2 linked regions of the Homo sapiens genome follow. The protein of the gene in region 2 purifies or fractionates together with the protein of the main gene of each other region. This does not show direct contact. Each region holds a gene or a part of one and is shown on either strand. Other genes may lie near its edges.

Region 1 (4,900 bases), on a different chromosome or scaffold from region 2:
GTCCTTAATTGTCCCTGTCGCCACCTTGCCCCATCCTCAGATGGCTGTGGCTGTGGGGGTGAAGCTCCCCACGCACCGCCATTGTGCAGGCCTGCCCCTAGGACATCCTCTGTGGACTGGAGCCCGGGAGGACTTCACTGAGCCCCCGCCAAGAGAAACCGGGCAGACAGGTGGTCCCGGATGCTCCCTCGTCGGGAAGCGCAGTTGGGTTCCAGGGAGCCCGTGGGTGCTGGAGGCCCCAGCTCAGGGCTCAGTGAGCCGGGCCAGCCTGGCCTCTGAGAGGGCTCCCGGAGGAGGCGACCAGGACCCTGGCCTAGAGTCTCAGCAAGTCCATCTCCTTCAAATGCCCCCACCTCGGCTCCACGCCCCTCCTCCAGAGCACACTCGCGTGAGGCGCCAGCTGGAAGATCCTCGCGGGTCCCAGCACCGCAGTGGGTGCCTGGGCCTGACAGAACCTCCCTGAACCCCATCTTTCTTCTCCATCGACACCGGGGCAGAGACGGTGTGGGGGCTGCAGGGCGGGGACTGGTCGGCCTGGGCTCGACAGCTTGGCGAGGGCCTGGTGCGGGCTGGGCAGGCTGGACTGAGGGGCAAAGAGGTCTGGGCGGGGCGGGGCCGCTCTGGGCGCCCGGCCCCCACCAGTTCCTTCCCCCGGCCCCCGCCTCCGCCCTCCCACGCACCTGCGCTGGCCTCCCCCCAAGCCCTGGGGGCAGCGGGCGGGTGGCGCTGGGAGATCAGAGGACTCGGAGGAGTCGGGCCCAGGGGGAGGGGGCGGGGAATTTCCCCCCACGCCTGCCTGGGCCTGCTCCCCTCCCCCTCCCCCGCCAGGTGGGGGGCACGGCTGGGGGAATTCCACTGCAGTGTGAAGGCTCGGGAGAGTCTGGGCTGGGGGTCCCAGGGAAGGGCGGGGCAGGGGGAGGAGGAGGGGACAGACTGGGACCTGGGGCGCAGCTGCCTTTCTCCCCAGACACCAGCTGCCCCTGCCTGTCCCGGACTGAGCGTCCACGACTCCCGCCTGTCTCGTGGGCGCGGGGGCAGGGAGTGGAGCTTCCTCCGTCAGGCCAGCGGCATCTGGACCAGGGGCGGGAGGGGCGTGCGGATCCGAAGAAAGTGTGCGCGTGAGCGCCTGGCAATGAATGGGAGAGAGTGCGAGCGCGTGCGTGCACTGGGAGGAGGGCGCTTGTAACTCGGACATTCCGGGTGTCCTGGGGCGCGTGCGACCACGTGAGGGGGTTCTGTATCTCCCATTTTAAGGGCCTTCCGTCCGCTTGCCCCGCCTGTCCCCCTCCACACCTTCCCACTTGAACCGGCACCGACCTGAGGGAGAGGGGGCCGGGAAGCGCTGGACGCCCGGGGTCGGGGGAACGGGCGTGGGAGGCGTCTGGACCTGCTGCCTCCGCTCCAGTGCTGGGCGGGGCTTCCCGGCCTCCCATGGGGGGAGGGAGAGACCCAGGGGGAGGGACCCACGGAGGGATGCGAGGCGGGCAGGAGTCAGCCCGTTGGAGACCTGGGCGAGGGAGACGCCGAGAGCTAGGCTCAGTGGGAGGGGGCGGGCGTAGAGGCTGAGGCACCGCCCAGAGCTCGCTGAGACAGAGACTGAGAACGCCCCCGGCCAGATTCCCCCCGGAGAGACCCGGGTAGGGACAGGGACAGAGAGACGCCTCTAGGGGCAGAGGCCCTGGGAGGCAAAGACCCCCAGGAGAGATTTACCCACCCCAGACGGAAAGCGCGGCTCAGAGTCGGACGAGGGGAGACTGTCAGAGGACAACGCCCCCTAGGTCTCCTGGGAGACCCCGAAGCGACCCCGGGGGCAGCCCGGGCCGTGTCCGGGCGAGGGTGACCTATCCTTGGTTGAGAGCGATGGGGACACAAGCCCTGCAGGGCTTCCTCTTTCTCCTCTTCCTCCCGCTGCTGCAGCCGCGTGGGGCCTCGGCTGGGAGCCTGCACAGTCCAGGTAAGTCCCCGCACGGCTGTCGGGCCGTGTTCACCACCCCTTCCTCGGCCTCCGCCCCCAGGGCCAGGCCCCCAAGGCTAGGGAGGGGGACAGAGCAGGTGGCCGGAGCAGCTGAGCAGCCCGAGGGCTCCTGCAGGGGCGGGTGCGGGGTCGCTGGCTGGGGACCCAGGCGGGAGGTGGCGTAGGGGCGCGAGGATGCCCGGCGTGGGTCCGGACCTCCCCAGGCCCTGCCTTTGCCGTGCAGGCCTGTCCGAATGCTTCCAGGTGAATGGGGCTGACTACCGCGGCCACCAGAACCGCACTGGCCCGCGCGGGGCGGGCCGCCCGTGCCTCTTCTGGGACCAGACGCAGCAACACAGCTACAGCAGCGCCAGCGACCCCCACGGCCGCTGGGGGCTGGGCGCGCACAACTTCTGCCGGTGAGGGGCGGGGCCTGCGCTGGGGGCGAGGCTGGGCTCACCATTGCAGGGATGGCCCGAAGCGGGGCCTCCGTGCGGGCGGGGTGGAGGTCTGCCGTGGACTGGCAGCCCAGCCTCCTGGAGAACCTGGGGGCGGGGCCAGAATGAGGGGCGGGGCGGGGCGGGGCGGGGCGCGCGGAACCCTGGCGCAAAAGGGATCCTCCTCAGGTGAACAATTTCTGCAGAGCTCCAGTTCAGGGCCAGGAGAGAAACGGACCTGGGCACTCAAAGGACCCGTATGGGCGGGGCCTGGTCAGAGCGGGGGCCGAATGGGCGGGGCCTTGTCAGAGTGGGGCTCTTGTCATACAACTTATTTTGGGGTTCAGAGCCACAGCTACGGTCTGAGGCAGGATGGACCCAGCGGGAGGAGAGCCGCAAAGCTCAGGAGCTCACTTCTGCTTTTAAGTGGGGTTGGAGGCCAGGCGCGGTGGCTCAGCCTGTAATCCCAGCACTTTGGGAGGCCAAGGCAGGCGGATCATCTGAGGTCAGGAGTTCGAGACCAGCCTGGCTACCATGGTGAAACCCCATTTCTACTAAAAATACAAAAAATTAGCGGGGCATGGTGGCGGGCGCCTGTAATCCCAGCTACTCAGGAGGCTGAGGCAGGAGAATCGCTTGAACCCGGGAGGCGGAGCTTGCAGTGAGCAGAGATCGCGCCAATGCACTCTAGCCTGGGTGACAGAGCGAGACTCGTCTCAAAAAAAAAAAAAAAAAGTGGGGTTTGAGGGACGGAAGTGGCTGAGGCCCATGCCGGGTGGGGGTGAAGAATACAGATGGCCTCAAAGTCCTCATATATGGAGTCAAGTCTAGCAACAGCTGAAGCCTAAAAACAGCTCTCAAGTCCCCTTTAATGACTTCCCGCTGTCCACTCGGAAGTCGACGTCCAGTTCCTTCATCAGGCAGAGTTCTGCGTAGACAAAACTGGAATTTGTGGGTGTACAGCAGGCAGCACAGCCGCTCACAGGCACAGAGCCTTGAAGGCCACTTTGAGCATAGGCTGCGGGGCCGGGCCTGGGTTTGCTATTCTTGGGGTGGTGGGAGCCCCACCACCTCCCTCCCACCCGCAGTAACCCAGACGGTGACGTGCAGCCGTGGTGCTACGTGGCTGAGACAGAGGAGGGCATCTACTGGCGCTACTGCGACATCCCCTCCTGTCACAGTGAGTAGCGCGGCTGGACAGAGGTGGGAACGCTGCTGCATCTGGGAGGAGGGTTGTTTTCGGAGTCACGGAAGTCTGACTCTGCCCCCTCAGTGCCAGGCTACCTGGGATGCTTTGTGGACTCAGGGGCACCCCCAGCCCTCAGCGGCCCCAGCGGCACCTCCACGAAGCTCACGGTCCAGGTGTGCCTACGCTTCTGCCGCATGAAGGGGTACCAGGTACTGCTCACGGGCCCAGACCAGTGACCCCTGACCTGGACCTAAAGACCACACTCAACTCCCAACACTCGGTTGCCAAACCCAGACACCGGTTTCTGAACCTCCAGCCCGATTCCCACCCCGACCCCAGGCCCCCACCACTTCACCCCTACCCCAGCCCCTGCCCTGGGGTCACCCAGTCTGTGCTCCCAGCTGGCGGGCGTGGAGGCCGGTTACGCCTGCTTCTGTGGCTCTGAAAGCGACCTGGCCCGGGGACGCCTGGCCCCCGCCACCGACTGTGACCAGATCTGTTTCGGCCACCCTGGACAGCTGTGTGGCGGCGATGGGCGGCTGGGCGTCTATGAAGGTGAGGAGTGGGCGGGGACCAGGGGCCTGGGCGGGCCTCGAGGTGGGGCCTGGCCGGGCAGGGGAGCCGCCGTGTCCTGGTCCTCAGGATGCTGACTGCCGGCCCCGCCCGCAGTGTCGGTGGGCTCCTGCCAGGGGAACTGGACAGCGCCTCAGGGCGTCATCTACTCCCCGGACTTCCCGGACGAGTACGGGCCGGACCGGAACTGCAGCTGGGCCCTGGGCCCGCCAGGCGCCGCGCTGGAGCTCACCTTCCGCCTCTTCGAGCTGGCCGACCCGCGCGACCGGCTGGAGCTGCGCGACGCGGCTTCGGGCAGCCTGCTCCGCGCCTTCGATGGCGCCCGCCCACCGCCGTCCGGGCCGCTGCGCCTGGGCACTGCCGCGCTGCTGCTCACCTTCCGAAGCGACGCGCGCGGCCACGCGCAAGGCTTCGCGCTCACCTACCGCGGTGAGCCTCAGCTCGGCGCGCCCTGCCCGCTGTTCCCACCCCGCTCTCCCCACCCCGCCTCACGCCCCTCTCCGCAGGGCTGCAGGACGCCGCTGAGGACCCAGAGGCCCCCGAGGGCTCGGCCCAGACCCCCGCGGCGCCCCTCGACGGGGCCAACGTGAGCTGCAGCCCCAGGCCTGGGGCTCCGCCGGCCGCGATTGGGGGTGAGGCGGGCGCGCGGGACGGGAGTGAGTCAGGGAGCCGCCCCCTCGCGCCCATCCTCACCGCAGCCGTGTGCCCGCAGCCCGGGTCTTCTCGACGGTGACGGCTGTCTCGGTG
Region 2 (3,691 bases):
ACAGAGGTAATATACATAGCAAGCATTAGACAAGTGCTGAGAGGCCAACAGCACAGACAGACTCCAGCTTGAGTCCCACACCTGCCACTCCCTGTCTCTTACAGGGTCTTTGAGGGGATTAAATGTGGTTGTGTGTGAGGCAGAAGCATAAGCCTGGCCCAGGTAGTGCCCCTTCAGGTGTGCAAGCCAGGCACGGTGCTTAGAGCTTACATACAACGTCTATGTGTGGTGGGCACCACCGACCTCATTTGACAAGGGAAGGGGCTGTGGCTCAGAGGGACGGCCACAACATCAAGGTCACCTTGGGTGTCAGGCAAACTCCAGATTGAACTCAGCTGCCACACACCAAGAAATTAATTGTAACCTGATGCCTCTCTTCTGGAGAAATTGGGGGGTGGACTTTCATTAACGTTCTGCCACAAATGACCCTCACTCCTGGGGGCCCCTGAGACCCCCACGCCTCCAGCCTCCCCTCCGGCTCTCTCTGTGCACTCACCTACCTGCCTCGCGCCTGCCTGCTGCGCCCAGCTGGGGCCTCCACCTTCCTCTGGCTTGGACTGGCCAGGTGCAGCCTCGGTGCCCAGCTGTTCAGCCCGTACCCTCCGCCCTTCGGAGGACGACCTCACCCTTCCTTTGTTAAGCCCCTTGTCCACCACATCCGCATTCCCCTGGTCTCACGGGGGCCTTTGGCCCAGTTCCTGACTGTGATGGGGAGAGTGTGGGCATTTGGTCTGGCTGTGCAAATCCTGCCCCTGTGTGGGTGGGAGTGTGCATGGCTTCAACCTTCAGGGGATGCATCCACATTGCCCAGTGGAGAGGGGTCCTGGTCCTGTGACCTTGAATGTCTCTAATCATGTCCTTAAGCATAATGCCATTCTGTGTGTGTGTGTGTGTGTGTGTGTGTACATGCACGTGTGCAGTGGGTATACAAGGCCCTGTATGTTCACATCCTCTCCACATGCATGAGCCAGATCCCCATATGTGAAACCCAATCAGTGACTCCACAGATCTGGCTTGGGGGCTGATCTAGAGATGGATAAATATGTCCTGCCCTGGCTGCCTCTGGCTTCAGCTGCATGTCTTTGACCTTGAATGCCCAGCCCCGTGTCTGGGTGCTGCCCCAGACAGCAAGTCCACATCTGAGTGTTGGCCTTCTGGGTTGGTGTCTGCAGCTCTAACTCTACAAAATGTCTTGTGGGTGAATCACGGTTTTAACCTTGACTTTTTTTTGTTTGTTTGGTTTTTTTTGAGACGGAGTCTCGCTCTGCCGCCCAAGCTGGAGTTCAGTGGTGCAACCTCAGCTCACTGCAACCTCCGCCTCCCAGGTTCAAGCAATTCTGTCTCTGCCTCCCGAGTAGCTAGAATTACAGGCACGCACCACCACGCCCAGCTGATTTTTGTATTTTTATTTATTTATTTATTTATTTTTTAGTAGAGACGGGATTTCACGATGTTGGCCAGGCTGGTCTCAAACTCCTGACCTCAGGTGATCCACCCACCTCGGCCTTGGCCTCCCAAAGTGCTGGGATTACAGGCGTGAGCCACCACACCTGGCCAACCTTGACTATTTATTATAGGTAATTCTGTGCAGATGTCTGACTTATGTTGGCCATCTCCAGGATGGACCTGAACTTTCACACGTATGTCCCTGTGACTAAATCCAGGTGTCATTTGCAAAAAACAACTAATATTATTAAGTAGCTACCAGGGCTAGGTATCACTCACCATACATACACACATGCACACACACACATACACATTCCTACCTCATCCTTACAACAATCTTCATTTTACAGATGAGGAAACAGAGGCACAGACAGGTCGAATAACTTACTCAAAGTTTCACAGCTAGTACATTCGAACCCAGGCTTAAGGACCCATCTTTGTCCAGACCCTGTATGCAAGTGTCTGTGACACTGGATGCCAAGACTCACACTAGAGATGTTGAATTTAGGTCTGAACAATATCCAATTCTGTGTGTGTGTTTGTGTGTGCATGTGTGTGTGTGTATGTATTCATGTCTTAACCATCCATATTCATATACACATATGAACATCTGTGCTGTGATTCTTTTTTTTTTTTTTTTTTTTTTTTTGAGATGGAGTTTCACTCTTGTCACCCAGGCTGGAGTGCAATGGAGCAACCTCCGCTCACTGCAATCTCCGCCTCCCGGGTTCAAGCGATTTTCCTGCCTCAGCCTCCAGAGTAGCTGGGATTACAGGCACCCGCCACCATGCCCAGCTAATTTTTTGTATTTTTGTTAGAGACAGGGTTTCCCCATATTGGCCAGGCTGGTCTCGAACTCCTGACCTCAGGTGATCCACCCGCCTCGGCCTCCCAAAGTGCTGGGATTACAGGCATGAGCCACCGTGCCCAGCCTGTGCTGTGATTCTTGAAGCTGCAACCCATGTGCATGCAAGTGAATTTCAGCTTCCAGTCCTGTCCATAGCTGTACCTAAGTGTGGAAGCTGGATGTGCATGTATGCATGTCCATGACCTTGTATAGCCACATCTGGGACTCATACTGCACACTGAATTTGGCTGACATGTCCAGACTCTGGGGCCAAGGCTGGGTCACACATACTGAGTGGCCACATGCGTTTGACGTCTGTGACAATTTGGTGACCGTGAATGACTGGTTTCAAGTGACCACCTGTCTGAACCTGTATCCAGTGCCCCTGTCTCCACCCCCAACCACAGAGGACTTCTTGCCCTCTGGTCTGTTCCCCTTCCTCTCTCTCCCAGAGTCTTATAGCAAATGGGGTGGGGGCTAGAGTTCTGGAGAAAACAGGCAGCGGTTGTAAATAAACAACAGGGCAGGCGGAGCATGGTGGCTCACACCTGTAATCCCAGCACTTTGGGAGGCTGAGGCGGGCAGAGCATTTGAAGTCAGAAGTTTGAGACTACCCTGGCTAACATGGTGAGACCTCGTCTCTACTAAAAATACAAAAATTAGCCAGGTGTGGTGGCGGGCACCTCAGCTACTCGGGAGGCTGAGGCAGGAGGATCACTTGAACCCAGGAGGCGGAAGTTGCAGTGAGCTGAGATCATGCCACTGCACTCCAGCCTGGGCAAAAGAGTGAGACTCCGTCTCAAAAACAACAACAACAACAAACAAAAACAGGGCAGGGTGTCTTGAGAAGTTAGGGGAAAGGCATAGGCATATAGTAGTTAGGGCAGGGTGCAAGGAAGGTGTAGGAGGCAATGTAAACGTCCCTGTCCTCAGGCATCCTCTACCCCTTCTCTTAGCAGCCCAGGATGGTGACAAGTTGCTGGAAGGTGACGAGTGTGCACCCCACTCCCAGCCATGGCAAGTGGCTCTCTACGAGCGTGGACGCTTTAACTGTGGCGCTTCCCTCATCTCCCCACACTGGGTGCTGTCTGCGGCCCACTGCCAAAGCCGGTATGAAGGCAGGGGCTCAGGGTCCTGAGGGAGCCTGGTTCGGGGGGAAGAGCTCCTAGATTTGGGGGAAGACGGAGGCAGACGCCAGAACTCCTGGGTTCTGAAAGACGAGGAGGCCGGATGTCAAGCCCCTGGGTTAGGAAGGAGTGTGTGTTTCAAAGCCTTCGATCTCTGAAGGAGGAAGGAGAAGACTAGTTCCAGCTTTTGAGCCTCAGTTCTAGGGATGTGAGAATCCTGGATTCGGGGACAGACCAGGAGGGGGCTGGGAGTAGTTGGAGGGGATCGAGT

The links.
Region 1: the proteins of KLK15 (region 2) and KREMEN2 purify together in Homo sapiens (affinity purification with mass spectrometry; one large-scale study listed by BioGRID and IntAct). This does not show direct contact.

What each region holds. Positions count from the first base shown.
Region 1 is NC_000016.10:2,962,661-2,967,560, forward strand, and holds the start of KREMEN2 (kremen protein 2 isoform d precursor), read left to right. Parts: upstream 1-1,614; 5' UTR 1,615-1,860; coding exon 1,861-1,954; intron 1,955-2,198; coding exon 2,199-2,373; intron 2,374-3,479; coding exon 3,480-3,571; intron 3,572-3,664; coding exon 3,665-3,789; intron 3,790-3,981; coding exon 3,982-4,135; intron 4,136-4,249; coding exon 4,250-4,582; intron 4,583-4,659; coding exon 4,660-4,785; intron 4,786-4,865; coding exon 4,866-4,900. UniProt on the Homo sapiens protein: Receptor for Dickkopf proteins. Cooperates with DKK1/2 to inhibit Wnt/beta-catenin signaling by promoting the endocytosis of Wnt receptors LRP5 and LRP6.
Region 2 is NC_000019.10:50,827,374-50,831,064, reverse strand, and holds part of KLK15 (kallikrein-15 isoform 4 preproprotein), read left to right. Parts: intron 1-500; exon of another isoform or gene 501-535; intron 536-3,249; coding exon 3,250-3,403; intron 3,404-3,691. UniProt on the Homo sapiens protein: Protease whose physiological substrate is not yet known.